Linked DNA regions of Homo sapiens. The protein of the gene in region 1 interacts with the protein of each later gene in a pairwise test. Each region holds a gene or a part of one and is shown in the gene's direction. Other genes may lie near its edges. The genes, in order: RRM2, DNM1L and CCNF.

Evidence for each region.
Region 2: the proteins of RRM2 (region 1) and DNM1L interact in a two-hybrid assay, tested with the Homo sapiens proteins (one study listed by BioGRID and IntAct).
Region 3: the proteins of RRM2 (region 1) and CCNF interact in binary tests that used the Homo sapiens proteins (3 or more experiments, as listed by UniProt).

What each region holds. Positions count from the first base shown.
Region 1 is NC_000002.12:10,124,604-10,134,412, forward strand, and holds the end of RRM2 (ribonucleoside-diphosphate reductase subunit M2), read left to right. Parts: intron 1-113; coding exon 114-247; intron 248-2,271; coding exon 2,272-2,366; intron 2,367-2,483; coding exon 2,484-2,617; intron 2,618-4,244; coding exon 4,245-4,349; intron 4,350-4,437; coding exon 4,438-4,551; intron 4,552-4,630; coding exon 4,631-4,783; 3' UTR 4,784-6,811; downstream 6,812-9,809. UniProt on the Homo sapiens protein: Provides the precursors necessary for DNA synthesis. Catalyzes the biosynthesis of deoxyribonucleotides from the corresponding ribonucleotides. Inhibits Wnt signaling.
Region 2 is NC_000012.12:32,728,949-32,739,581, forward strand, and holds part of DNM1L (dynamin-1-like protein), read left to right. Parts: intron 1-2,065; coding exon 2,066-2,186; intron 2,187-2,407; coding exon 2,408-2,563; intron 2,564-2,905; coding exon 2,906-2,995; intron 2,996-4,766; coding exon 4,767-4,859; intron 4,860-8,156; coding exon 8,157-8,213; intron 8,214-8,916; coding exon 8,917-8,994; intron 8,995-9,315; coding exon 9,316-9,348; intron 9,349-10,633. UniProt on the Homo sapiens protein: Functions in mitochondrial and peroxisomal division.
Region 3 is NC_000016.10:2,437,209-2,447,841, forward strand, and holds part of CCNF (cyclin-F), read left to right. Parts: coding exon 1-114; intron 115-861; coding exon 862-915; intron 916-2,144; coding exon 2,145-2,249; intron 2,250-2,540; coding exon 2,541-2,618; intron 2,619-6,440; coding exon 6,441-6,592; intron 6,593-8,183; exon of another isoform or gene 8,184-8,249; coding exon 8,250-8,414; intron 8,415-10,633. UniProt on the Homo sapiens protein: Substrate recognition component of a SCF (SKP1-CUL1-F-box protein) E3 ubiquitin-protein ligase complex which mediates the ubiquitination and subsequent proteasomal degradation of target proteins.

The sequences.
Region 1 (9,809 bases):
TATATAGAAATAAACCTTATAATGGTACAAAGAGTGCGATGCTGCCAGTATCCGTTGACAGTTGCTGCTGTTGGTTTTTTCTCAAGCTTAACTTTGATGTGTTTTGCCACTAGGTGGAGCGATTTAGCCAAGAAGTTCAGATTACAGAAGCCCGCTGTTTCTATGGCTTCCAAATTGCCATGGAAAACATACATTCTGAAATGTATAGTCTTCTTATTGACACTTACATAAAAGATCCCAAAGAAAGGTGAGTATTCAAGTGGTATGCCAAGATTTTTAGGACTCACTAATTGTTGATTTATTACACATTTTTAGTTCACCTAGGGATAAAAATGACTCCAGAATGACTAAGACAGTCATAGGCATTCCCAGCACCCGTGGTCATGTCTGCTCTTAGCAAGGGGCCTAAATGCACTTTATTATTCACTTAGAGTTGTGAAGGTACTCCTTTTAAAGTTGGATGTCTACCAATGTAAAACCTTCTTTTGAAAAAATTCCTAGATGTTGGGTAAGACAAACTAAAACCTATGTCTGACCATCTTTGCTCATTTGGTAAAGTTGTTGAGAAGCTAGAATGTGGGGCTGCAGTGGGATGGACGGGGAGGACTTGCCTCCTAAGAAGCCTGCAGTATAGTATAGGCAAATAAGACTTAGTAGGAGTTACATAAGGCAGAGGCAGCAGTGAACCCTGAGACTGATTTAGGCATGCAGGAGTTTGGCTGAATAAAGGTAGCTTAAGGTCTGTTTTGTTTTGGAGATTGGAGGTGGGGGGATTAGAAATGGGCTGCTGGAGTAGTCTAGATACAAAGGTCAGCTTTAGGGTGGCGCGCGGTGGTTCTCGCCTGTAATCCCAGCACTTTGGGAGGCTGAAGCGGGCGGACAATGAGGTCAGGAGATCGAGACCATCCTGGCTAACACGGTGAAACCCCGTCTCTACTAAAAATAAAAAAAGTGGTGGCGGGCGCCTGTAGTCCCAGCTGCTTGGGAGGCTGAGACAGGAGAATGGCGTGAACCCGGGAGGCGGAGCTTGCGCTCCAGCCTGGGTGACAGAGCAAGACTCCGTCTCAAAAAGCAAAACCAAGCAAAAAAAACAAAGGTCAGCTTTGGGGACCAGAACCTTGTATGGAGTGGAAGTGGTGAAGCTGCAACCTAAAGTAGCCGTTGTAGACTTTGAAGTACATGAAGAGGAAAAGTGGTAACTTGAAAGGACTGAGGAAACATTGGGAGTAAAGAGATTTGAACATGTTTATAGGTGGAAATTGAGAAAAGAAGGCAAAGATTAGGGGTACGATCGGGGGCAAATGCCCAGAAGGGGAACAGGAAGGTCTGCTGGGGAAGCCTCAAAAACAAGGGAGAGGCAGACCCAGGTCTCAGAGAGAGGGACAGTGAGATGGAAAGAATGAACGACAGCTGGGCATGGTAGTCTGAGCTAGTAGTCCCAGCTACTTGGCAGGCTGAGGCAGAAGGATGGCTTGAGCCCTGGAGTTTGGTTTTACCGTGAGCTGTGATCATCTCGCTGCACTCTAGCCTGGGCAACAGAGTGAGACCCTCATCTCTTTAAAAAAAAAAAAAAAAAAAAAAAAAAAAAAGCTGCCCAATGTCTGGTGCCCTTGGCTTCAGAACACAAAGTCATCTGGGTAGGAACAGTCTGGGAAATGAGTAGCCTCTCAAGGTGGGCACCAGAATAAAGGGAGGCAGAGGAGGGTGGTAAGGGAGATCCAGTTAACTGTAGTACCCATGGATTTGCTTTCCTGACCTGGGATCGACAGTGTAGCACAGAGTCCTAGTAGGAAGCAATCTTAGTTTATTGGTTTAATTATTTTATGATATAGGTGTGGCAACTGAGGCCAAATAATGCACCTAATCATAGTCTGATAATAGCACAGCAGTTAGGATTTTATGGTTCTTCAAATTTAAATTCTATGATTCTTCAAATTGAACAATGATCTGGACTTGAAATAATTTTAAAGGCAACAAATGTCCCTGCTGTACTGGACTATGTTTTACTGTCTGTAGACCCTGAAGCTCAATATGAACTACAGAATACCCAAACTTGTATTAATGTAAATCAAGTGTTGAGGTTTTTAAAAGAACACTGGAGGGAAAAACTGACCAGTAAAAATAAAACATTTCGGTGTGAGTTCTTCCTTTAGGAAGAGGATTGGCAAATACTTGAATTTGGCCTTTGTCCCAGAGCTCTTATCTAGCAGTTGGTAATCGGAGGTCTTTTACTGTAATGCTTCAATTGCTGATACCGTATGTGCCTACTAGGGAATTTCTCTTCAATGCCATTGAAACGATGCCTTGTGTCAAGAAGAAGGCAGACTGGGCCTTGCGCTGGATTGGGGACAAAGAGGCTACCTATGGTAAGGAGACCCTTGCCCCTACTTAAACCTGAGCTTCATTTTCCAAGTAATGTTACTGGATTTTTGGCCCTTGAATACCAACTCACTAGAATCATGTTGGTGTTAACTCCTAAATAGGTGAACGTGTTGTAGCCTTTGCTGCAGTGGAAGGCATTTTCTTTTCCGGTTCTTTTGCGTCGATATTCTGGCTCAAGAAACGAGGACTGATGCCTGGCCTCACATTTTCTAATGAACTTATTAGCAGAGATGAGGTGAGTCTAAGTCAAATAATAGGGTGACCTAAACCCCAAACACAACTCGGGCATGCTCTTGTGTTCACTGACGGGGACCTGAGATGCTAGATGGCATATATCCACATTTAATGTGTGAGTTCAACCATACACATACTTGACAAAAGAAGGAAATACTTTCATTTACTGAAACTGTTTTACTTGCATTCTCAATATATTGTAATACATTTGTACATATGTATTCCCCTATAGGCTTTGAATGCATAAAACTACAAGTTCTTTGTTTTTTGAGGTGACGGAATCTTGCTCTGTCGTTCCAGGCTGGAGTGCAATGGCGTGATCTTGGCTCACTGCAACCTCTGCCTCCTAGGTTCAAGTGATTCTCCCGCCTCAGCCTCCCAAGTAGCTGGGATTGTAGGTGCCTGCCACCATGCCCAGCTAATTTTCGTCTTTTTATACAGACGGGGTTTCACCATGTTTGCCAGACTGGGGTTGAACTCCTGACCTCAGGTGATCAGGTGATCCACCCGCCTCGGCCTCCCAGAGTGCTGGGATTATAGGCATGAGCCACCATGCCCAGCCAAAACTACAAGTTATTGATGGGATTGGGATTTTAAGGGATGTTTTATTATTTTTGCCTGGTATTAATATGTTATCCCTTTTTCCGTAAAAATGTTCATAGTAGAGCCAGGAGCGGTGGCTCATGCCTGTAATCCCAGCACTTTGGTAGGCCGAGGCGGGTGGATCATGAGGTCAGGAGATTGAGACCATCCTGGCTAACACGGTGAAACCCCATCTCTACTAAAAATACAAAAAATTAGCCGGGTATGGTGGACGTGCCTATTGTCCCAGCTACTTGAGAGGCTGAGGTAGGAGAATCGCCTGAACCTGGGAGGTGGAGGTTGCAGTGAGTCAAGATCACACCACTGCACTCCAGCCTGGGTGACAGTCCCCCCGAAAAAGAATGTTCATAGTAGCCATTATGTTTCTCCTGTTTGATCTAGAAATTGCCCCTCTACTTCAATATTAATAAGCATTTCAATGAAATGAGTATACATTTTGGTCTAGTGTATGTCTTTGATTAAGTCACATTTGAAAAGCCAGGAGCATGAACTCCATCTTACTTGGAGCCCAGTGGGCAAATCAAATATGGTTACCTTGTAGGAGGGCCTTCCTTACTGGATTGGGAGATAAGCTGTGAAGCTTGATGTTTAATGCAGTAACTTGCAAACTTGATTTACTTGAAATTGCATACAAATTTCCTGAGCATCTAAAAACTAGCCTTATTACTGAGCTTTGCCTTTCCTGCTGGGAGTAGTGGCAAAATTAGCACTCATGGCTGTAGAAAGATCACTGAGTGAAGCTCTGACTCCTCCTTTGCCAACACACAGCAGAGCAAGAAATACACCTTGCCTGTCTTCATCTAGGTGGCAACTTTGAGGGTCTTGAATGGGACTGAGCTTGCCTTGGTAGTGACATCAGCAGAGAAGTCAGTAGTTGAAGTCATCTTCCCTTTGAGAGTTCAAGTGCTCTCAGTATGGCTGAGCATGTTGGATAAGGAGAATGCAGAAAAGGACAAAGTAATTTCATATTCCATGTTAATGACAGAAGTCTTCTGGCTTTAGTGATCTTGAACTTTTTTTTCTAGGGTTTACACTGTGATTTTGCTTGCCTGATGTTCAAACACCTGGTACACAAACCATCGGAGGAGAGAGTAAGAGAAATAATTATCAATGCTGTTCGGATAGAACAGGTAAAGTGGGTGATGAAATGGGTCACTCAAGCTTGCTAGAAAATGCCTGTGCTTTAGTTGTATTCAGAAGCTGTATTTTGGTTCCTAGGAGTTCCTCACTGAGGCCTTGCCTGTGAAGCTCATTGGGATGAATTGCACTCTAATGAAGCAATACATTGAGTTTGTGGCAGACAGACTTATGCTGGAACTGGGTTTTAGCAAGGTAAAGTATTGTTTACATAGCCTTTTGCTTGTTTTGAAGCTGGTGCTCTGTATTTATATCTTGATGTGAACCTTTTCAGGTTTTCAGAGTAGAGAACCCATTTGACTTTATGGAGAATATTTCACTGGAAGGAAAGACTAACTTCTTTGAGAAGAGAGTAGGCGAGTATCAGAGGATGGGAGTGATGTCAAGTCCAACAGAGAATTCTTTTACCTTGGATGCTGACTTCTAAATGAACTGAAGATGTGCCCTTACTTGGCTGATTTTTTTTTTCCATCTCATAAGAAAAATCAGCTGAAGTGTTACCAACTAGCCACACCATGAATTGTCCGTAATGTTCATTAACAGCATCTTTAAAACTGTGTAGCTACCTCACAACCAGTCCTGTCTGTTTATAGTGCTGGTAGTATCACCTTTTGCCAGAAGGCCTGGCTGGCTGTGACTTACCATAGCAGTGACAATGGCAGTCTTGGCTTTAAAGTGAGGGGTGACCCTTTAGTGAGCTTAGCACAGCGGGATTAAACAGTCCTTTAACCAGCACAGCCAGTTAAAAGATGCAGCCTCACTGCTTCAACGCAGATTTTAATGTTTACTTAAATATAAACCTGGCACTTTACAAACAAATAAACATTGTTTGTACTCACAAGGCGATAATAGCTTGATTTATTTGGTTTCTACACCAAATACATTCTCCTGACCACTAATGGGAGCCAATTCACAATTCACTAAGTGACTAAAGTAAGTTAAACTTGTGTAGACTAAGCATGTAATTTTTAAGTTTTATTTTAATGAATTAAAATATTTGTTAACCAACTTTAAAGTCAGTCCTGTGTATACCTAGATATTAGTCAGTTGGTGCCAGATAGAAGACAGGTTGTGTTTTTATCCTGTGGCTTGTGTAGTGTCCTGGGATTCTCTGCCCCCTCTGAGTAGAGTGTTGTGGGATAAAGGAATCTCTCAGGGCAAGGAGCTTCTTAAGTTAAATCACTAGAAATTTAGGGGTGATCTGGGCCTTCATATGTGTGAGAAGCCGTTTCATTTTATTTCTCACTGTATTTTCCTCAACGTCTGGTTGATGAGAAAAAATTCTTGAAGAGTTTTCATATGTGGGAGCTAAGGTAGTATTGTAAAATTTCAAGTCATCCTTAAACAAAATGATCCACCTAAGATCTTGCCCCTGTTAAGTGGTGAAATCAACTAGAGGTGGTTCCTACAAGTTGTTCATTCTAGTTTTGTTTGGTGTAAGTAGGTTGTGTGAGTTAATTCATTTATATTTACTATGTCTGTTAAATCAGAAATTTTTTATTATCTATGTTCTTCTAGATTTTACCTGTAGTTCATACTTCAGTCACCCAGTGTCTTATTCTGGCATTGTCTAAATCTGAGCATTGTCTAGGGGGATCTTAAACTTTAGTAGGAAACCATGAGCTGTTAATACAGTTTCCATTCAAATATTAATTTCAGAATGAAACATAATTTTTTTTTTTTTTTTTGAGATGGAGTCTCGCTCTGTTGCCCAGGCTGGAGTGCAGTGGCGCGATTTTGGCTCACTGTAACCTCCATCTCCTGGGTTCAAGCAATTCTCCTGTCTCAGCCTCCCTAGTAGCTGGGACTGCAGGTATGTGCTACCACACCTGGCTAATTTTTGTATTTTTAGTAGAGATGGAGTTTCACCATATTGGTCAGGCTGGTCTTGAACTCCTGACCTCAGGTGATCCACCCACCTCGGCCTCCCAAAGTGCTGGGATTGCAGGCGTGATAAACAAATATTCTTAATAGGGCTACTTTGAATTAATCTGCCTTTATGTTTGGGAGAAGAAAGCTGAGACATTGCATGAAAGATGATGAGAGATAAATGTTGATCTTTTGGCCCCATTTGTTAATTGTATTCAGTATTTGAACGTCGTCCTGTTTATTGTTAGTTTTCTTCATCATTTATTGTATAGACAATTTTTAAATCTCTGTAATATGATACATTTTCCTATCTTTTAAGTTATTGTTACCTAAAGTTAATCCAGATTATATGGTCCTTATATGTGTACAACATTAAAATGAAAGGCTTTGTCTTGCATTGTGAGGTACAGGCGGAAGTTGGAATCAGGTTTTAGGATTCTGTCTCTCATTAGCTGAATAATGTGAGGATTAACTTCTGCCAGCTCAGACCATTTCCTAATCAGTTGAAAGGGAAACAAGTATTTCAGTCTCAAAATTGAATAATGCACAAGTCTTAAGTGATTAAAATAAAACTGTTCTTATGTCAGTTTCTTGATTGGTAAAATTTGCATTTTAATTCAGGAAGAGAAATATTTTTTGGCCAGGCATGGCTGTAATCCCAGCACTTTGGGAGACCAAGGTAGGCAGATCACCTGAGCTCAGGAGTTCGAGATCAGCCTGGCCAACATGGTGACACCCCATCTCTACTAAAAATACAAAAATTAGCCTGGCATGGTGGCACACGCCTGTAATCCCAGCTACTCGTGAGGCTGAGGCAGGAGAATCACTTGAACCCGGGAGGCAGAGGTTGCAGTGAGCTGAGATTGCACCGCTGCACTCCAGCCTGGGCAGCAGAGTGAGACTGTCTGAAAAAAAAAGGTGTTTTTTGTAAAGGCTAACGAATTCATTTGCTTTCCACTGGTTCTGGGCAAGAGACTTGCCTTGTGCCTATTGGCACAAGGTGTATAGGAGACAGGTACACCCGAAAGGTGGTGCCCAAAAATACTAACTGCCATACTGCACGTGGGGTTTGTGAAGCCGGGGCTGAGTTAACTTCTCAACCGTGGGGGAGCCACTCCTGGGGCTCTTTTCCCGTTTGCAAAACAGGTGGGGCTAGAGGTCTTCCCAGCTGGAGTTTTGCTCTGCTGTCCCACATCTGACCTGTGTGGACTCCAGCACAGGTTTGGATTGGTCCCTGTGTCTATAAAGGCCCTTTCCTGACTCGGAATCCCACCCACTTTGATAAAGCCTTTTAGAATTCATGACACCCATCCCCAAACGAACCAATCATTCCTTGTACCTCACGCCACTGCCATTCAGTTCATTGAACAAACAGCAGCTCTCTTGTCAGGTGACGTTTTCTACCTGCATTTTAATTCAGGAAGATGGGGCGCTAAGCCAGAGGGGAGGCCCCTCCCTCTGGAGCTTGGGTTTACTCCTAGAGAGGAAAACTGATAGATGAGTAGATCTGAATTGTTGGGCAGTGGTGGGGGCAGCAGAGAATTCTAAGGTGGATGGGAGTGATTGGGAGAGGTCTCATGGGGGGAGATGATGTTTCCTTAGTGGAGGGGACTGGGACTAGTGTCTGAGGTTGTGCTGCTTCCGACTCCTGTGTTCTCATGAAGATTTCTTCCCGTGCTGCTCTGTAAGAGAAAGTTGTCTTTGAGGGCACAGATTTTTATCTGTCTTTATATTTATAAGCATAAGGCCTCCAAGGATCAGGTATTTAAGTGACTGGTACATGGGGAAATAAACTAATTGGAACTGAAGTATTTTGGGGTGGATGGTATCTTGGGTAAAAGTGTGATCTGTGTCCCAGAGGAACCTAGTAGAGAGCTTTGCCTTTACACCTAAAAGTGTTCAGTTAAGGTCATTTGATTTGTAATGTCAGGTTGGCGCTGGGCCTATTGCACAAGTTCGGGGCAGCCAGGCGTCAAGAAGATGACCAACTACTAGGACAGCCTCCCTGTGGGTGGCCTGCAGTCTGTTCTGCTCCCCCCGGCCCCATGCCAGCTGCCATGCTCTATAGAACATGTCTCCCATGCTGCCCGAGGAGGGCCTGCAGAGAGTTGAGTGGTCAGGCTGCTGAGTCAATTGCCCTGGGTACTCATTAGATACATCCTCCCCGGCCTCACCCCCAGACCTACTGAATCAGTCTGGGGGTAAACCAGGGACCCTGTAATCTTAATGGGAGATCTCAGACACTTGAGATCGGGTGGGATAGACTCCTGACATAAAGTTCAAACCAGTGGACGTCAGTCCTGGGTGTGAATTATAATCACCTGGGGGCTTTTAAAAGCTACTAAAGTCTGGATCTCACTTGGGGAAAAGGCAGCCCTGCTGAGCTTCAGCATGTTCCAGATGTGTTTTCTGGTGTGTTCTAGACATGCTGTGTAAGAGTTACACTTCATTGTGTGTGCACATTCGGGGCCCTGCCCAGCTGCAGTGGCCAGGCCTGGCTGCTAAAAGCAGACCTACCAAAACCTCCCTTCACCTGGTACTGCTGTGGCCTCTGACCTGAGGACTTTGTCATGCAAAGGAGGAACCAGATGGGTGTTCTGTCACCTGGCCAGGGAGCTAACTGGCTGTATTTTGAGGATCAGTGGCCCTGCCAGTGTCGGTCTGGAGATCCTGATAATGGTTTAACTCCTCTTAGCAAGACAGGCACAGGCCCAGCCCCTCATCCGTGAGTGGCTGCAGTTGGACTGCGTGGCCTGGCCTCTTCCAGCAGTCCCTGAGTATAGAGGGGCTACCCTCCTGGTGTCTGTCTGGACACAGAAGGGAACACATCAGTGGTGTCTCCCTGCCATTCCCTGGAGGGAATATGACATCAGGATTTTTTTTTTTTTTTTTTTTAATGATGAGAATAGCTGAACCCATTGCTGCTTAAGGTTCAGTAGTCATGTTCACCTTAGCCTTGGCTCTAGAGACTGGAGTGGCTCCAGCAAGGTGGTGGACTAAGGAACCGAACTCCTCTTGCTTCAAACACCTGCCCATGATAAATAGCACAGCAAAAAGTTAAATAGGTGGGCCGGGCATGGTGGCTCGCGCCTGTAATCCCAGCACTTTGGGAGGCTGAGGTGGGCGGATCACCTGAGGTCAGGAGTTTGAGACCAGCCTGGCCAACATGGTGAGACCCCATCTCTACTAAAAATACAAAATTTAGCCGGGTGTGGTGGCCCATGTCTGTAATCCCATTACTCCGGAGGCTGAGGCAGGAGAATCACTTGAACCTGGGAGGCAGAGGTTGTAGTGAGCTGAGATTGCACTCCAGCCTGGGCGACAAGAGTGAAACTCCATCTCAAAAAAAAAAAAAAAAAAAAAAGTTAAATAGATGATCACCTCCTGGGAAAGGAGAATGACCTCTTTTGGGAACAAAGAAAGTGACCATGGAGGCCCCGGAACTTGTAGCAGCTCTCCGAGTGGTTGTTAGTCCCTTAGAGAAATTAAATGGGCAGGGGCTGACGTGCAATTGGATTTGGAGGGAGAGGTTAATCTAAACCAGGGGAGGAGTTGGGACCAAAACCGTGGCATAAAGCTAGGGG
Region 2 (10,633 bases), on another chromosome or scaffold:
AATTATTTTTTATTTTTTATTTTTATTAGAGATGAGGTTTCACTGTGTTAGCCAGGATGGTCTCGATCTCATGAACACGTGATCCACCTGCCCTGGCTTCCCAAAGTGCTGGGATTACAGGCATGAGCCACTGTGCCCAGTCCCCCTTTTTTTGAGACAGTCTCACTCTATTGCCCAAACTGGAGTGTAGTGGCGTGATCTCGGCTCACTGCAAACTCCACCTCCTGGGTTCAAGTGATTCTCCCGCTTCAGCCTCCCGAGTAGCTGGGATTACAGGCGCGCACTACTATGCCCGGCTAATTTTTTGTATTTTTAGTAGAGATGGAGTTTCACCATGCTGGCCAGGCTGGTCTCAAACTCCCGACCTTGTGATCCGCCTGCCTCGGCCTCCCAAAGTGCTGGGATTACAGGCATGAGCCACCGCGCCCAGCCGAAATTCTTATCTATTAAGCAATTACTCATTCCCCTCTCCTCCCTCCAGCCCTGGTAACCTCTAATTTAATTAATTAATTACTTTATTACTTTGAGACAGAGCCTCACTTTATTGCCGAGGCTGGAATGCAGTGGCACAGTTTGGGCCAGTCTCTGCCTCCCAGGTTCAAGCAATCATCCTGCCTCAGCCTCCTGAGTAGCTGGGACTACAGGTGCCCACCACCACACCTGGCTAATTTTTGTATTTGTTTGCATTTTTAGTAGAGACTGGGTTTCACCATGTTGGCCAGGCTAGTCTTGAACTCCTGACCTCAGGTGATCTGCCCACCTCAGCCTTCCAAAGTGTTGGGATTACAGGTGTGAGCCACTGTGCCTGGCCGAATTTACTTTCTGTCTCTGAATTTGCCTATTGTAGATATTTCATATAAATTGAATCATTCAGTATTTGTCCTTTTGTGCTTGGCTTACTTCTGTTAGCATAATATTAGACTAGTACTTTTTGCCTGAGCTAGTATAAAAAAGTACTCAATAGTGATTGTAAAAATAGAGAGGAAGGGATGATTTGGGGAGGCATTATAAAGGTATTTGTAGAATTCAGATGGACTTGAATTTAAAAAAAGATAATACCAGGGTTTCTAGTTATTAAACAAGATAGGAAACATAAGGTGCTCAGTAACTATATCAAGAGATTTAATTTGTCTAAGGCTGGGCGTGGTGGCTCATGCCTGTAATCTCAGCACTTTGGGAGGCCGAGGTGGGCAGATCACGAGGTCAAGAGATCAAGACCATCCTGGCCAACGTGGTGAAACCCCGTCTCTACTAAAAATACAAAAATTAGGTGGGCATGGTGGCACATGCCTGTAGTCCCAGCTACTTGGGAGGCTGAGGCAGGAGAATCGCTTGAACCCAGGAGGCGGAGGTTGCAGTAAGCCAAGAGCGCACCACTGCACTCCAGCCTGGGCGACACAGCGAGACTCCGTCTCAAAAAGAAACAAAACAACAAAAAAAGAGAGATTTAATTTGTCTAAAGCAAGAGTAGGGCTGGGCACGGGTGGCTCACGCCTGTGATCCCAGCACTTTGGGAGGTCAAGGCGGGCGGATCACTTGAGGTCAGGAGTTTGAGACAAGCCTGGCTAACAAGCTATACTTATTTATTTACATATTGTCTATGGCTGCTTATGTGCTTAATGGTAGAGTTGAGTAGTTGCAGCAGAGACTGTATGGCCTGAAAAGCCTAAAATACTATGTGACCCTTTATGGAAAAAGTTTGCCAACCTCTACTTCAGATTGTGAATCAATGGAAATAAATATAAGGCACTGTTTCCTGTCCTCAAGGAAAACTAGGGCAGAGAAAAGGTGCTTAGCAATTCTTAGTTAACTGTTGATTTATGTCAGAACATTTATTATATTTACATATATATAATTTAATGATTCCTTTTCCCCTTTAAAAAAATTAGAGAAACTAGTTCATAATGAGCTGAGTTAGAACACATGGTAATGGGAATGAATGAAATTGTTTATCTGAGGCTTTCTCAGAAAATAAGATGAGCTTAAAGCTTCTAGAAAGACTTCTAACTTGTATCTTCTTTCCCTTTTTGCAATGCCAGAAACCATATACTTCATTGCCTTTCAGATGCGGTGGTGCTAGAATTTGTTATATTTTCCATGAGACTTTTGGGCGAACCTTAGAATCTGTTGATCCACTTGGTGGCCTTAACACTATTGACATTTTGACTGCCATTAGAAATGCTACTGTGAGTATGTTTAGCTTTTTAGACTGTAAAAAAAAATGAGGTTAAAGTTTTTCTTACCCATATACTGTGTCTTTTTAAATTTAATTATACAGTTTATTTTGCTCTCATATTTGAAATTAAAAAGCATTTTTCATGAAAAGTACCAAAAATGTGACTTTCTTAACCCTTGGGAAGAACTGAAATTACATATATAATAAGAGTTCTAAGTTTTATTTTCTCAGGGTCCTCGTCCTGCTTTATTTGTGCCTGAGGTTTCATTTGAGTTACTGGTGAAGCGGCAAATCAAACGTCTAGAAGAGCCCAGCCTCCGCTGTGTGGAACTGGTTCATGAGGAAATGCAAAGGATCATTCAGCACTGTAGCAATTACAGTACACAGGTAACGGAGAGAAATGTAACAGGTTTCACATGAACTAGAAAAGGACATGAAGTGGTGGTTTCACTGGGTGGAAGGAAATGTATAAGATGGGATACAAGGTAAAATCTGTAGTTCCCTTACCTGAAAGTGATTTGAAATAGGATTCTTAAATGTAGTCTCCAAATTGAATTCAGTATTTCTGTGATCATTAAGTAAAAGAAAATGACTGTTAGCCTGGCATGGTGGCTTCTACATGTAGTCTCAGCTACTTGGGAGGCTAAGGTGGGAGGATGGCTTAGTGAGACTATGACTTAAAAAAAAAACAAAAAACAAACACGTTTTTCTTTCATCTACCATTTGTAGGAATTGTTACGATTTCCTAAACTTCATGATGCCATAGTTGAAGTGGTGACTTGTCTTCTTCGTAAAAGGTTGCCTGTTACAAATGAAATGGTGAGCTACTATAGCATAGATCATTGTAATTACTATTAGTAAAAGTTTAAATTTTTGCTTGGCTGCTTTTTAATAAGCATTATATGGTTACTTTAGAGTGTAGGCATAATGTTTTCCAGTGTATTGGGAGGAAAAACAAGTTGAGTTTCAGTCTCATTTTAAAGGAAAATTTTTAATAATTCTGGTATAAAGTGCATTTTTTCTTCATATTTTAATCATTGTTAGCCTGCAGGCATGGGTTTTCTTGAAAATAGATTTATGATTGAGGGGTGTGAATAGCTTTGCTGTATTATTTAGTACCACTGATCTTAAGAGAAAATTAGTTCCATCTTTAGCCTCAGTAAACTGAGCATTTATAGCACACTGTTACTTTGAGGTACATCGGAGTAATCTGGCCACTTCTGCAGTTTGCTTGTTATGACCTAATAACTATAATATCGTAGTTGCTTGCTACTATTCTGTGGGTTGCTGCTATCCACACAAATAAAAATGCTGAAATTGGCAGAAATATGGGATAAGCATTTAAAATTGCCCTCATGCCTCTAATTGTTGGCTGGGTTTTTTGTTTTTTGTTTTCTTTCTGATCACTAAAAGTGCATTTGGGTCCTTGGCTCAGGATGGTGAACCCCGTGGAGGTTTACTAAGAGTACAAAACCATCCTTGGAATGTAAGTGCTGCTGCTTGGTTGTTTCTTTAGCAAGGATAGCCCTCAGATTCTGATGTCTAAGACTGAATTTAGCCCAGAATCATTGGACCTTCATTTTAATAGACCCTTTTTACCCAGTTCTGGACTGATAAGTGCTGTTCTGATACCTGAGATTTGTTAGGACAGCACATAATAAAGGGCTCAAGTTTATTCTCTCTGTAAGACTCAGTGGTGTGGTGGCTCACACCTGTAATCCCAACACTTTGGGAAGTCGAGGCGGGTGGATCACTTGAGGTCGGAAGTTTGAGACCAGCCTGACCAACATGGAGAAACCCCCTCTCTACTAAAAATACAAAATTAGCCGGGCGTGGTGGTGCATGCCTGTAATCCCAGCTACTGGGGAGGCTGAGGCAGGCAGGAGAATCACTTGAACCTGGGAGGTGGAGGCTGCGGTGAGCCGAGATCGCGCCATTGCACTCCAGCCTGGGCAATGAGAGCGAAACTCCGTCTCAAACAAACAAACAAACAAAAAGACTTAGCAATTCTGTAGAGGGCTGGATAAATTAATTTTAACTTTTCTTTTTTATTTTCCTCTTAGGATTTTGAACTACATATAATATTTTAACTAGGTGCTTTATAGTTAAGGCTAATCAGTCACTACCTCAGGTCCTTAGATGTATCCTTTACCCAAATAAGTTAACATCTTTAACTTATGCCTTGTTACGAACTTATTTTCTTATTGTTGAAAATGAACTAAAAAAGTGACAGGGAATAGTGGATGATCTGAAGTTTTAATAGCAAAGTTGCATAAAGTGTTGGAATTTAGATTTGCATTAGGTAGATGACTATTTTTCCCTAAGAGTAAAATACTTGTAGTTACTTTAATGTTATTTTTCCCTCTTAGAAATGCAGTTTTAGATGCTGAAATGTAAATAATTTTAAAGCTAGAGTAAATTATTGTTTGGCATAAGATTTATCAGTTGGAATATAATTATCAAGTAATTTAGGCATAAGTTTCCTGTACTTTTTCGGTATTGTCTGTTTCATAAGTTTTATATATAAATTTCTCAAAGTAAAATATGGTTGATGTATTTTTGTATATCGCCTAACTTACTTTTTTTCTAGGTCCATAACTTAGTGGCAATTGAACTGGCTTATATCAACACAAAACATCCAGACTTTGCTGATGCTTGTGGGCTAATGAACAATAATATAGAGGTAAATATAATTCTTAAATGCTTTTTCACAGGTAGAAAAATCTGTTGTAACTCAGTTATATCAAACTTATTTAGCATGGAGTAACTATAAAATAGACATGTGCCACATTAGTGCCTGCTGCATGTCAGGAAATATGCTGAGGGGATTACATTGTTTTCTTAATTCTCAAAACCACCTGCAGGCATTATTACTTTCTGCTTATGAAATTGAAATTCAGAAAGAATCTGAAAATTCATTGATTTGGTGTGACTGGCTCTATTTTGGTAACTTATAGTTTATACAGGGGAAGTGTGTACAACAAAGTATTTAAAATTCTTTTCATTTGGCTTTGAAAGCTGTGAAGGAAACACTCAAGAATTAACCAACTTAGCATAAATTTGGAAAAGCAGAGTGCTTTTTTCACCACTACTGGGGTGGCTGCATTTCATGGATCTTTTCTTTCCTTTTGATTTTAATGTAACAAATTGAATAAGATCTCAGATGGAGCCAAGGCTGGTGGACAGAGCAATTTATCCAGAAGCCATTTTTTTTCTCTGCCGCTTTTCTCCAAAAATAGTACATTTTTCTGCTACTCCCTAATTCAGTAAGACCTGAGTCCCCTGCTATACCAAATTTCCTCTTCTGCATATCCATGGTGAGAAAATTGTAAACATGCAATTCAGAAGCTGGAAGGGATCCTGTGTTATTGACTTCAACTCTGGTTAAAACAGATGGGGTGGCCAGACGTGGTGGCTCATGCCTGTAATCCCAGCAATTTGGGAGGTCAAGGCAGGTGGATCACCTGACATCAGGAGTTTGAGACCAGCCTGGCCAACATGGTGAAACCCCGTCTCTACTAAAAATACAAAAAATTAGCCGGGCTTGGTGGCAGGTGCCTGTAATCTGAGCTACTAGGGAGGCTGAGGCAGGAGAATCAACTTGAACCCAGGAGGTGGAGGTTGCAGTGAGCTGAGATCGCGCCATTGCACTCCAGCCTGGGCAACAAGGGCGAAACTCCATCTTAAAAAAAAACTGGGGAGCTTGAGGCTTACAGATAGCAGTTATTCCTTTGGTGCTTATTTTGCAGGGCACTATTATAGGAAGCAAGCACCTTCTTAACACAGGTATAGGGAACTAATTTTTGGTTACATAGCTGGGGGTGATTCCTGTTATCAGAAAAAATTCCAAAATGCATACATGAGTAGGCACTTCAAAACACTCAGAAAGTAGGCCAGATCACAGTTATGTTAAAAATTAGCATGTAGACACTTAAAGGATTTAGTTTTTTTTACATTGAAACTAACATCATGAAAAACTTGTGTTTGCGGTAGTTCTGTTACACTGACAAGGTCATATGTGATATGATTTCAGATTAGTATTTTTCTACAAATGAATAGGTTTCTGGTTTTAATGACTGTGCCAGAGAACTTTATGTGGATATTTTCATTTAATCTTTACCATACCCTGAGGGCAGATCATGTCATTAACAGATTAGGACACTAGGGCTTCAAAATAGTTGGTAAGCTGTCCAGTTAGCAAAGCAGGTACTCCACATCTGCTGGGGTCCAGGAGCAGCTCAGATCATAACTGGTTAGTAACAGACTAGGGTGAGAATTCTAGATACCGTGGCCTTTTGCTTTGTATCCCTGTTCAAAATGTACATTTTATCATGCTAATTTTTTATTTTGAAGATTGTTAATATCTATACTTTTATTATCTGTTATTTTTTATTACTGAATACCCGCCCATGAAAAAATAAAATTGGGTCAAATTTCTGTCAAAAAAAATTATTACACATGAAACATCACTGTGGGCTGTGTGCGGTGGCTCATGCCTGTAATCCCAGCACTTTGGTAGGCCGAGGCAGGCTGATCACCTGAGGTCAGGAGTTCAAGTCTAGCCTGGCCAACGTGGCAAAACTGTCTCTACTAAAAATAGAAAAATTAGCCGGGGGTGGTGGATGCCTGTAATCCCAGCTAGTAGGGAGGCTGCAGCAGGGAGAATCCATTGAATCCAGGAGGCGGAGGTTGCAGTGAGCCAAGATCACACCACTGCACTCCAGCCTGGGCGACAGAGCGAGACTCCATTTCAACAAAAAACAAAAACAAAATCATTGTGAGGCTTTAACTTATATTTTTTTGCAAGTTGGACTGTGTTCATGAAATACTTCCTACTTAGGAGCAATTGTGACTTTAACCTAAATAGTTTCTACTTTATCTGATGCTGCCTGTGAGAGATCCATCATTAATTAACATCTACAGATTTCTATATCTTCATAATCTTTTTTTTTTTTTTTTTTTTTTAAGACAGAGTCTCACTCTGTCGCCCAGGCTGGAGTGCAGTGGCATGAGCTCTGCTCACTGCAACCTCTGCCTCCTGGGTTCAAGCAGTTCTCCTGCCGCAGCCTCCTGAGTAGCTGGGATTACAGGTGTGCGGCACCATGCCTGGCTAATTTTTATATTTTTAGTAGAGACAGGGTTTCACCATTTTGGCCAGGCTGGTCTTGAACTGCCCTCAAGTGATCTGCCCACCTTGGCCTCCCAAAGTGCTGGGATTACAAGCATGAGGCACTGTGCCCGGCCAATATTTTCATAATCTTTTACCTATCTTGGTGCTTGGATATAGCAGATGCTCGGGACATTCTAATTTGAATTTGTCAGTTTCTTTAGCTTTGTACAAGTTACTTTGATAATATTAGCAAATTAGAACAGTAGGCAATTGATCAGTGTGTTAAATTAGCCAGGTTACAGAAAGGACTAGCAGTTGTCAACACTATTTCCTGGAGGAAGAAATGGAACATTTTTATAGGATAACCTCAACCACAGATACTTCTTCAAGATACGGTTTTATGAGGGGAGTTGTTTGAGTTTAACACAAAGGTGTTCAGGTTAGAGTGACTTTTAAAGGCTTTGCGGAGTTTTCTGTGATCTCTGGACTTCAAATTCCACATGGTTATGTTGAAGGCTTACCACGTTCCACATTTATGTGAGGACAGTTTACATCACTGTTTCTTAGTGGGAAAGGGGGAGAAGATGGCAGTCTGTTGCCCCTCATTTGAGAATCCCCAGTACAGGGAGCCACTGTTACTGACAGTGTATTGTATCCTTCAGGTGTGTGGGCAGAAAAAAAAAAGATTAAGAAGCTTTGGGTTAAATGATTTCTTATTTATTTTAAAATATGATAATTATGGCATGAGTCCCAACAGTGAGAGGATGTATCTGTAAGTTACTCCACACTTTTCAATTAACATGAACATTTTTTAGTAGGCATATATCTCAATACTTGGATAATCACTTTTGTTTTGCTTGTGTTTCTTAGGAACAAAGGAGAAACAGGCTAGCCAGAGAATTACCTTCAGCTGTATCACGAGACAAGGTAAAAAAATGTTTTTAATGCATATTCCCAATACCTAAAGATAGATTGATGAGCTCAGAATATTACTCAGTCCTAGGAGTAATTTTTTCTTCTTTTCCTCCCTTTAACACTCCATTGGAACTAACTGAGTAAAGGCATACAAGTTTAAAATGGGTTTTGAGTGATTTAAAGATAATAGTATTTTGAATTCACTGACATAAATGCTTAAAAGTAGATTTAAGCATTTATTTAAGCATTTAAGCATCAAGCTTTTTAAAAAAATTCAGTCAGTGACTTTATCAACTTTGCACATAGCTGAAATGACTCAAGATTTTATTATAATAAGAGGGTTTCTTGGAAAAAACAGTATGCACAGAACAGAGGTTTTAATTACTAGTAATAATTAAAATAGTTGTAATACTAAAGTGTGTATAAAAATCTTTTACCTTGAATTCTTTGCCAGAAAAGAATCTTATTAAATACCAAAAATAAAAATGAAGCTTTTGGATTTGGATTTTTCTTATGTATTCATCTGAAGGAAACTTTTAACAAAGGTGACAATGGTGAAGGAAATAAGGCAGAATAAACAATCTCCCATGATTATTTTCATCTTTCATGTTATTTTACGATTTCATTACAGAAGGGAAAAATTCATTTATAGAATGTTCCTGAATGCATTTTTGCATCCTTGATTTTTTTTCCCCCCTGGATTTTTTGCCTTTAGTCTTCTAAAGTTCCAAGTGCTTTGGCACCTGCCTCCCAGGAGCCCTCCCCCGCTGCTTCTGCTGAGGCTGATGGCAAGGTCTGTTCTGATTCTTAATCTAAGCCTGCATGCCTTGTTCTCTGGTACAACATAATCTTCTGGAAACAATACACTGAATAGAAGAATATTAATATGGGATACTGTGCTAAGGTCAGATCACTTTAGTCTAATATATATTTTAAAATTATATAACAATGCAATGCATAGTTTATATTGTTGACATGCTTTTGCTTGCAATATAGAAGATGCACACAGAAAAAGTAATTTAAAGAGGAAATTATCCTGCACTTTTTGAATTTCAACCCATTGGTATTTAAATTTTGCTTGTTAAATTGCATGTTTTAACATATCTTTTAACAGTTAATTCAGGACAGCAGAAGAGAAACTAAAAATGTGAGTCTCTTGCTTCAGAATGGAAATGTTGGTACCTTTGGTTCTCACTGAAACACTGTCTATACCACCATTAAAGAACCTGTTTGTGTAGTGGTATCTATCTCTTGTCTGTGTTATGTTCTTAATGTTCCTTTTATCTAACCTGTGGAAGATGGCATTAAACGTTGTTTTAATTAGTAACAATAATAGGCTTTCTCACTGTTTTGTTACCTTCAAGAATAGTTTTAAATTTAGTATTTTGGTAGGAAATTCAGAGATTTCCTAGATTTCAGAGATGGAATTGTATTTTTGGACATTTCCTTTCCTCTTTAAAGATCTTGAGATCTGTTCAGTACTAATAGATCTAATGCTTCTTTCTTATGCTTCCAGTTAGTTTGCACTTGTTACCCTATATATAGCTTCACATATGCTTCAGAAGCTTAAGCAAATTAAAAAAACAAATGGGGACTGTGAGAGTTTGAGACTGTTTTCAATTCTTGATAACCATTTTAGAGGAAAATTAAATAATGTATAAATTATTCAGACTCATCGCTATTTCAAGATTTTCTGCCATTTAGCTCCTTTCCTTAATTATCCAGATTTAAAGTTCTGAACTTCAAATAAAGGTTTATAAATGTCTTATCTTCTCTCAGCCCACTGTGCTCAGATATTAATCAAACCATCTAAATCACTGCACAAGTTTTATTTCATTCATGACGTCACACTGAATGTGCTCTCTCTCCTTAAGATTTCATTTGGTATGTCATTCATGTATAGTTAACAAACATTTAAAAATCTAATTACTCATTTTTAAGTTAATGTGTAACATAAATATACTACTTATATTTAAATGTAGTTCACCTTAACTGACATACTAAAGACAGATTTTAGCAAATATTTTGATTCAGAATGATACCTCAAACTACCATTTTTCTAACTGCCATAATCCTCTATTAAACTTATATAATCCATTTTTAGATTGTAAGATCTTAAAGAATACCTAAAAAAAACCCTCTTAAATGTTGATGAATTGTTTTTCCATTATAAAGTCATTTTTGACTTTTAGAAGTCAAGACTAATACATTTTCTAGAAAACAAGGTACAAAAGCACTTGTGATTAATGGTAGCACTAGATTTCTTTCAGCAAATCCTTAAGAGTACAGAGGTTGAGGGGACTTCTGTTGTTTGTCACATTCCGCATTTGAAACAACTCACAGTGACTGTCAGCCTAAGAATAGCAAATGTAGTCTTGCTTTTTGTTAAAGAGTTCTTACTTATACCTTATGGCATTTTTGTTGACTATTAG
Region 3 (10,633 bases), on another chromosome or scaffold:
GTGGGTGCCGCACCTTTCATCTGGCTCTTCATCCGCCCTCCGTGGTCGGTGAGCGGAAGCTGCTGCAAGGCCGTGGTTCACGAGAGCCTCAGGGCAGAGTGCCAGCTGCAGAGGGTGAGTCTGGGCGAGGGGCAGCACCTGCGAGGCCACCTGCAGGGTCCCAGGACACAGGAAGACCCCGAGGGTAGATCCTGGACCCTGGAAAGTCAGGAGCCTAAGGGAAGTGAAGATGCAGAAAACTGAGAGTGCAGATATGGGGAACGCATCTGGAAATCAGCTGGCACAGAGGAGGAAGCCTGAGAGCCAGGGTGGGCTGTGGAGTTCTGGGTACACGTGCTGACAGCTGGAAACATGGGGCTGAGGCTGCATGGGGCAGTGGGAGCTCAAGACACAAATCTGGCCAGGTGTGGTGGCTCACGCCTGTCATCCTAGCACTTTGGGAGGCCGAGGCTGGAGAATTGCTTGTGGCCAGGTGTTCGAGACCAGTCTGGGCAACATGATGAAATCTCGAAACCTCGTCTCTACAAAAAATACAAAAAAGTTAGCCAGGGGTGGTGGTGCATACCTATAGTCCCAGCTACTCAGGAGGCTGCGGTGGGAGGATCGCTTGAGCCTGGGAGGTTGAGCTTGCAATGAGCCGTGACTATGCCAATGCACTCCAGCCTGGGTGACAGAGCAAGACCCTGTTTCCCTTTAAAAAAAAAAAAAAAAAAAGACTGAAATCTGGGAGTGGCCCTCTGCAGGGGAGGGAGGGCCAGACAGCAGGGCCATGGGCATGGGACCCAAAGACAGACAAGGGAGTGGTGGCCCCCGGGCAGTTCTCTGTGCTGGAAATCACACTTCTTTCTCCTTTTTTTAAAGACTCACAAAGCATCCATATTGCACTGCTTGGGCAGAGTGCTGAGTCTGTTCGAGGTGAGTCAAGTTGTTCTCTGCACTGGGACTTTGTGTTCGATACATCCCTAGCCGAGATCCTGGAACTGAAAAGCAGCAGAAGGGGGTGTCCAAGGCCCAAAACAAAAGGCAAGCCTTGCCCAGAAAGGCCTAGCTGGAGAAGCCAGGGGACACATGTGGGCCTGGCCACGGGCTCCGATCCTGGCTCCATGACCCGCCTGGCAGGGGAGTGGGGGACGGTGAGAACAGCAGAGCAGATCTCAAGGAGGCATCGAACCTCGATGCTCACTCGTCTGCTGGCCCTGCTCCTCGTGGGCCTCTCCTGCTCGTGTGGACCTCTCTGCCTGGCCAAAATGGTGAAACCACGTCTTTACTAAAAAACACAAAAATTAGCTGGGCGTGGTGGCGGGTGCCCATAATCCCAGCTACTCAGGAGGCTGAGGCAGGGAGAATTGCTTGAACCTGGGAAGCGGAGGTTGCAGTGAGCCGAGATTGCACCACTGCACTCCAGCCTGGCAACAGAGTGAGACTCAGTCTCAGAAAAAAAAAAAAAAAGTATGGAAAAGGAGGAAGATGGTGAGTAGAGTGATTGAACATCAAGTAAAGAATAAGGGCCGGTCATGGTGGCTCATTCCTGTAATCCCAGCACCTTGGGAGGCCGAGGCGGGTGGATCACCTGAGGTCAGGAGTTTGAGACCAACCTGGCCAATGTGTTGAAACCACGTCTTTACTAAAAAACACAAAAATTAGCCGGGCATGGTGGTGGGCACCTGTAATCCTAGCTACTTGGGAGGCTGAGGCATGAGAGTTGCTTGAACCCGGGAAGCTGAGGTTTTAGTTAGCCAAGATCGTGCCACTATACTTTGGCCTGGGTGACAGAGGGAGACTCTGCCTCAACAACAACAAAAAAACCAGCCAGGCACAGTGGCTCATGCCTGTAATCCCAGCACTTTGGGAGACTGAGGTGGGTGGATCACCTGAGGCCAGGATTTTGAGACCAGCCTGGCCAACATGGTGAAACCCCGTCTCTACTAAAAATACAAAAATTAGCCGGGCATGATGGTGGGCTCCTGTAATCCCAGCTACTCAGGAGGCTGAGGCAGGAGAATTGGTTGAACCCAGGAGGCGGAGGTTGCAGTGAGCCAGGATGGCGCCATTGCACTCCAACCTGGGCGACGAGTGAAACTGTCTCAAAAAATAAAAATGAAAAAGAATAAGGGAACAATGAACTCTGCTGGGATTTATTCTAGGATGAGGAGAAGCAGCAGCAGGCCCATGACCTGTTTGAGGAGGCTGCTCATCAGGGATGTCTGACCAGCTCCTACCTCCTCTGGGAAAGCGACAGGAGGACAGATGTGAGTGGTGCCTGCTCTGGGTCGGGGGGAGTTATGCTGGACAAAGGCGTAGTTGATGCTGGTCCTTGGATGCGTTTCTGTCCACAAAAGGGAGGTGGCTCTTGCTGCTCCCGGTCTCTCAGCCTCCGGGAACCACTGGTCAGTCGGCTATTCTTGGTACCCCCAAAAATGACTCCACCATTTGAGAGAGAAGAGGTGGGAAGTTAGCGTAGTGTCGGCCCTTCTGGGTCTTGGTTCTGAGTTCCTCCCAAGACACAGTTGTACAAAGGCTCGGTGATCTCCCATTGACAGGTGTCAGATCCTGGGCGATGCCTCCACAGCTTCCGAAAACTCAGGGACTACGCTGCCAAAGGCTGCTGGGAAGCGCAGGTGAGGTGCGGGGCTGGGATGACGTGGGGAGCTGGCCTTTCTCCCTCCAGCCTTGGGGCAGGACTATCTGGGCTCCCACATTGGGGGGCAGGACTATCTGGGCTCCCACATGGGAGGCCAGGATTGAGGGACACCCTAAGATCGGTTCAGCACTGGAACTGGTCCTAAAGGACAGGTACACTGTGAGAAGAGCTGGGAAATGCGTTATTCATCTCTGCCTATCCACTCTTGCCTCTCAGCCAGCCAACCTCTTAATTTTCAAATGCTTGTGAGCTATAGCTGCTGTCAAAATTTGTGCCATTCTTGAAAGTTGTCCCATAGGTAGAACTGATCTTGACAACAAAACTTGAGGCTACTTGAGAGCAGAGGGGCGTGGAGAGTCCCTTCCTGCTTCCTCTTCCTGTTAGCGCCTTGCTTGTCATGTCACCTGGTCACCAAGTCATCCAGGGCTACAGGCAGGAAATCAAGCATTGGTAGACTCTCCCCTCACAGCTATAAATAAGTTGTTAGGGCCAGGTGCGGTGGCTCACGCCTGAAATCCCAGCACTCTGGGAGGCCAAGGTGGGCGGATGACCTGAGGTCAGGAGTTCGAGACCAGCCTGGCCAACATGGTGAAACCATCGCTACTAAAAATACAAAAATTAGCTGGGCGTGGTGGCAGGCACCTGATACTCAGGAAGTTGAGGCAGGAGAATCGCTTGAACCCGGGAGGCAGAGGTTGCAGTACCACTACACTCCAGCCTGGGCGACAGAGCAAGACTCTGTCTGAAGGAAAAAAAAAGTTGTCAGGACGAATCAAAGAAAGCTCCTATTTGCCAAATGGATAGAAGCTTGTTCTTGTCACCCCACCAAGTGGGTGGCAGAGTGATCTGCGCTCAAATGCTAGGGACAAAATTACAAATTGATAATGGCCCAGCCCGAGGTGTCATAGCACATTGTGGTGTTCACGTCCAAAAAGCCAGTCTACAGATTTACAAGAAGGCCAGACGTGATGGCTCACGCCTGCAATCCCAGCGCTGTAGGAGGTTGAGTTGGGAGGATCGCTTGAGCCCAGGAGTTCAAGACCAGCTCTGGCAACATAGTGAGACTCCATCTCGACAAAAAATTTTAAAATTAGCTGGATGGGCTGGGTGCAAGTGGCTCATGCCTGTAATGCCAGCACTTTGGGAGGCTGAGGCGGGCGGATCACGAGGTCAAGAGGTCGAGACCACCCTGGCCAATGTGGTGAAACCCCGTCTTTACTAAAAATACAAAAAAATTAGCTGGGCCTGGTGGCATGTGCCTAGAGTCCCAGCTACGCGGGAGGCTGAGGCAGGAGAATTGCTTGAACCCAGGAGGAGGAAGTTGCAGTGAGCCGAGATTGTGCCACTGCACTCCAGCCTGGCAACAGAGCGATACTCCATCTCAAAAAAAAAAAAAATTAGCTGGATGTGGTGGCGTGTGCCTTGTAGTGCAGCTACTCAGGAGGCTGAGGCAGGAGGATCACTTGAGCCTGCGAGGTCAAAGCTGCAGAGAGCCGTGATCGCAACATTGCACTTCAGCCTGGGCTACAGAGGGAGACCCTATCTCAACAAAAACATTGTTTACAAGAAATGCAACAACGTAGTTCTCGTGGAAGTTCAAGGGGCCTCAGTCAATTCTCACAAAAGAGGAAATAGGGCCGGGCGCAGTGGCTCACATTTATAATCCCAACACTTTGGGAGGCTGAGGCGGGAGGATCACTTGAAGCCAGGAGTTCTCTCTGTTGCCCAGGCTAGAGCACAGTGGTGCGATCTCAGCTCACTGCAACCTCTGACGCCTGGGTTCAAGCCTTCTGAGTAGCTGGGACTATAGGTGCCTGCCACCACGCCCAGCTAATTTTTGTATTTTTAGTAGAGGTGGGGTTTCACCATGTTGGCCAGGCTGGTCTAAAACTCCTGACCTCAAGTAATCTGCCCTCCTCGGCCTCCCAAAGTGTTGGGATTACAGGAGTGAGCCACTGCACCTGGCCAAAAAAAATTAATAATAAATAAATAAACTCAAGTGGTTAGAAATTGGAATGTTCAACCTTACTACTAGTCATAAGAGTGCACTTTTAAATGAGATATTTTGGGCTCATGATATTAGCAAATTATATATATATATATATATATATATATATATATATATATATATATGTTTTTGTTTTTGTTTTGTTTTGTTTTGTTTTGTTTTGTTTTTGATGGAGTCTTGCTCTGTTGCCCAGGCTGGAGCGCAGTGGCACAATCTCGGCTCACCACAAGCTCCGCCTCCTGGGTTCATGCCATTCTCCTGCCTCAGCCTCCCAAGTAGCTGGGACTACAGGCATTGCACCACCACGCCCAGCTAAATTTTTTGTATTTTTAGTAGAGACAGGGTTTCACCATGTTAGCCAGGATGGTCTGGATCTCCTGACTTCGTGATCTGCCCGCCTCGGCCTCCTAAAGTGCTGGGATTACAGGCTTGAGCCACCGCACCCAGCCCTTAATTATATATATATAATATCCATAATTAGATATATTTATAATATCTATTATTATATTATAACATAATTATATTTAGTCTGCCAGCTATTTATAATATATAATATTATATAATATAATATTATTATATATAATATATAATATTATATAATATAATATTATTATATATAATATATAATATTATATAATATAATATTATTATATATAATATATAATATTATATAATATAATATTATTATATATAATATATAATATTATATAATATAATATTATTATATATAATATATAATATTATATAATATAATATTATATATAATATATAATATTATATAATATAATATTATTATATATAATATATAATATTATATATAATATCATATTATTATATAATAATTATATATAAATATGTATTTATATATTGTATAACATATAATTATATAATAATTATAATAATATAATATATATCATATATAATATTATATATTATATTCTATAATATATAATATATTCTATAATATATGTAATATTATATTCTATTATATATAATATATATTATATTATATATATTATATTATAATTATATATTATATATTATATAATATATAAATATATATTAATATATATGATTATTATATATTATTATATTATATATTTTTATATATTTATATATTATATATTATTTATGTTAATTATATATTATATAATTATATTATATGTTCTATAATATATAATATAATATTATGTTATAATATCTATAATATATATTATAGATATATTATATATAATAGATATTTTTATATATAATATATTACATATTATATATTATATGTTTTATATTGTATATAATATATATTATATATAATATATATATAATATATAATATATATATATTTCTCTGTTTTTGGGTGGCTAGCTGGTAACTTCTGAAAATAGCTGTTTTTAATAATCACAGTGTTTGCTGGGATGAAGCTGTGATGAGGCAGGTGCTCCTATTCCTGGGTGTAAACATTGGCAGAAGCCTTTCGGAGAGCACTGGGGCGTATGGCCAGAGACTTAACACAGCTTCCCCAGGCATTAGCCATGTAAGAAACTGAGACCTGAGCCACGGTGGAAAGGCCACTGACATTTCATTATATATCTTTTCTCATGTCATCTATTACTTATACAAAAAGGAATAATAATTAAAACCTGAGCCATCCTTGTTCCCGAAGCTTGTGAAGGTTTAAGTTAAGTAGGGCAGTGTGTCCACATGCATTTGGTGCCTGAATGGGCCTTTGCTTCAGAAATGGAAAACTGCAACATGGCTGCTGTCTCACGCTCATGTTTGTCTTTTCTTCCTCAGCTGTCTTTAGCCAAAGCCTGTGCAAATGCAAACCAGCTTGGACTGGAGGTGAGAGCTTCCAGTGAGATCGTCTGCCAGCTATTTCAGGCTTCCCAGGCTGTCAGTAAACAACAAGTCTTCTCCGTGCAGAAGGGACTCAATGACACAATGAGGTGAGGCATTCAGGCCGGGGCTTCTAATCAGAGCGGCGCGGAAGCCAGCCTCCAGGGGAAGGGAGCCCTTTCCACTTAACCCCAGTTACCTGTGACAGGGCGGCATAGAGTTCCCTTATCACCCTTTTTTTTTTTTTGAAGTGGAGTCTCGCTCTGTCGCCCAGGCTGGAGTGCAGTGGCGCGATCTCAGCTCACTGCAAGCTCCGCCTCCTGGGTTCGAGCAATTCTCCTGCCTCAGCCTCCCGAGTAGCTGGGACTACAGGCACCCACCACCATGCCCGGCTAATTTTTTGTATTTTTAGTAGAGATGGGGTTTCACCATGTTAGCCAGGATGGTCTCAATCTCCTGACCTCGTGATCCGCCCGCTTTGGCCTCCCAAAGTGCTGGGATTACAGGCGTGAGCCACCGCGCCCAGCCTTGGGTGTTTTTTAAAACCAGTAATGCCAAAGTTATCGTGGACTTTTTGGAAGAAAATATCCTACTCTGCTTTCTTCAGTTACTTTTTTTTTTTTTTTTGAGACGGAGTCTTGCTCTGTCACCCAGGCTGGAGTGCAGTGGCGTGATCTCGGCTCACTGCAAGCTCCACCTCCCGGGTTCACACCATTCTCCTGCCTCAGCCTCCTCAGGAGCTGGGACTACAGGTGCCTGCCACCACGCCCAGCTAATTTTTTTGTATTTTTAGTAGAGATGGGGTTTCATCGTATTAGCCAGGATGGTCTCAATCTCCTGACCTCGTGATCCGCCTGCCTCCGCCTCCCAAAGTGCTGGGATTACAGGCGTGAGCCACCACGCCCAGCCACCTTTTTTTTTTTTGAGACAGGGTCTGGCTCTGTCACCCAGGCCAGAGTGCAGTGGCATGATTTCAGCTCACTGCAGCCTCCGCCTCCCAAGCTCAAGAGATCCTCCCACCTTACCCTCCTGAGTAGCTGGGACTACAGATGCACACCACCATGCACAGCTAATTGTTGTATTTTTAGTAGAGACAGGGTATCACTATGTTGCCCAGGCTAGTCTTGAACTCCTGGGCTCAAGCGAACCTCCTGCCCCAGCCTCCCACAGTGCAGTGATCTTTTTTAAGCCACAGAACACATTGAACATCTTTTTTTTTTTTTTGAGGCAGGCTGTCTGTCACCCAGGGTGGAGTGCAGTGGTGTGTTCTCGGCTTGCTGTAACCTCTGCCTCGGGCTCAAGCCTTTCTCCTGCCTCAGTCCCCCAAGTAGGACTACAAGTGTCTCCACTCTATTCAGAAAGGCATTTACCATATTGGGGCATCATTTACCGTATTGGGGCATTCCCTTGCGACTGTCCACCTTCTCCCGCTCCCTGCACGCCCCGAGGGTCAGGGTTCATCCACTGTGGGCAGACCAACGGCTGTGGGCTGACTTTTCACTTTGCGTCAGGTCGAGGTCTCAAAGCGCTTGTGTTTGGGAGCACCAGGAACACAGTCGAAGGATGTGGGGCCTGCTTTGGGGCTGGGACCCACGGAGCCTCCCGGGCTTCCTGTGACATGGCCTCTCCAGCCTTGGTTCCAGGGTAAACCCATGATTCCAGAGCTAGCCAGCTTATTTGGTCGGGCCCAACAGGTGGGGTTGAAATCGCAGACAGGGACACATGGAGAACGCCCCCACCAGTTCCCACGTGCTTCTCTTTCCGCAGGTACATTCTGATCGACTGGCTGGTGGAAGTTGCCACCATGAAGGACTTCACAAGCCTGTGCCTGCACCTGACCGTGGAGTGTGTGGACCGGTACCTGCGGAGGAGGCTGGTGCCGCGGTACAGGCTCCAGCTGCTGGGCATCGCCTGCATGGTCATCTGCACCCGGTGAGAAGCCCCCTTGGCCCAGCTGGCAGGGACGTGCTGGCCTTTCCCGGGTTCAGGGTCACCTGCCCTTCATGTGCTCCTCACTGGTTTGGTTTTGTTTTGTGTTGTTTTTTTTTTTTTCCCGAGACCAAGTCTCGCTCTGTCACCCAGGCTGGAGTGCAGTGGTGCGATCTTGGCTCACCGCAACCTCTGCCTCCCAGGTTCAAGTGATTCTTCTGCCTCAGCCTCCAGAGTAGCTGGGACTGCAGGCGTGCGCCACCATGCCCGACTAATTTTTTTGTATTTTTAGTAGAGACGGGGTTTCATCATGTTGGTCAGGCTGGTCTCAAACTCTTGATTTCAAATGATCCGCCCGCCTCAACCTCCCAAAATGCTGGGATTACAGGCACAAGCCACTGCGCCTGGCCCTCACTGGTTCTTGACTCATGAGCCACGAGTGTCCCACCTGGTCAGACATGGAGTGCCACGCTGAGGGCCTTTTGCAGGCAGGGGTGGCAGAACAGCCTTCAGCGTGTGGGGGCCGCTGTGTGGGGTGCCTGCATCCAGGCAATTCATCCTGGCATGCAGTCTCAGGACCCAAAGTGTGGCCTCGCTCTGGCAGGCACAGGCTGGACTGCCCTGTCCCCTGGCTCCTGAGGGCAGCAGGATGACTGATCAGGGAGGGTGGCAGTTGGCTGCCCTTCTCTGAAGTTGGGTTCTAAAGTCTGTTGCCAGAGTTTCCTACACTCTTGGAGTTAGAGAGTTTTTCGTCCCCCACTGGTGCCCTGCAGAGCCCACTCCAGCCACGTGGGTGTCTCTCAGCAGCAGCGTGCGTCCTTACACGGCAGCCTGTCCTTTTCAAATCAGACCACTGCTTTCCTTTAACTAATGCTGGATCCCCTAGTTCCGCCTTTGGAAATAACGTGGAAATGATTCTCACAATACGATTTGCATTTCCTAAACCAGCTGTCCCCAGCATGGTCTACATTTCCCGAGGAAGTGCTTTCCAGACCGACTCCTCTGTAGAGCCTGGTGGGTGAGGATAGGCTTGGCTGCACACAGCATATGTGTAAGCTACAGAGACTTGTTTCTTTCTTGCACAGGTAACCCAGAGGCAGAGGTTCCAGGCTCAGGTCATTGGCATGTTTTTTGTTTCATGAGGAAGCAGAGGAGCCCCATCTCCCATCTTAATCTCTGCCACCAACTAGGGTGCTGCCCTTGTCCCTGTGACACCTGTACCTGCCACATTCACCTTTGCACTGAGCTTAGTCTTGTGACCACATCTCACCAGACGGGAACTGGGAGGTGTAGTCTCTTCGGGCCTGTGTGTGCCAGCTCGATGCAGTGTCATTCCCATGGAAGGAGGGAGCAAACCCTGCCACAAGCATCCAGAGCTGTCTTCAGATGCGCTCTTGGGCCTGAATCCAGCGTCCCAGGTCTTCCGACCAGAGACGACTGAGGAGGTCGGGCGGCCGCCTCCCTGGATCTGACTGCACATCCATCACTGCAACCTACGACAAAGCTCCTGGGCCACAACCGGCTGGCAGTGAGAGAATAACTGCTAAAAACGTTTCAGGGAGCTGAGTCCAATTTCTTCCCCAACCACAAGACCTGATTGCAGTGGTCCATATAACTATCACCACAGCTCCCTCAAATCAACTCTGCCTTATTATCTTTTTTTTTTTTTTTTTTAAATCCGGGGACCAGGCACGGTGGCTCACGCCTGTAATCCCAGCACTTTGGGAGGCTGATGTGGGCGGATCGTGAGGTCAGGAGTTCAAGACCAGCCTGGCCAACATGGTGAAACCCTGTCTCTACTAAAGATACAAAAAATTAGCTGGGCGTGGTGGTGCATGCCTGTAATCCCAGCTACTCAGGAGGCTGAGGCAGGAGAATTGCTTGAACCCGAGAGGCAGAGGTTGCAGTGAGCCAAGATTACACCATTGCACTGCAGCCTGGGCAATGGCGCAAGACTCTGTCTCAAAAAAATACAAACAAAATTAGCCAGACGTGGTAGTGGGCGCCTGTAGTCCCATCTACTTGGGAGGCTGAGGCATGAGAATCACTTGAACCTGGGAGGCGGAGGTTGCAGTGAGCTGAGATAGCGCCACTGCACTAATCCAGCCTGGGTGACAGAGGGAAACTCTGTCTCAAAAAAAAAAAGATTTTAAAGGCTGAGCTGCCCCCCACCTCTGCTCTCAGAGGTGCCCTGCCCCCACCAGCCATCTCACACCCCACGC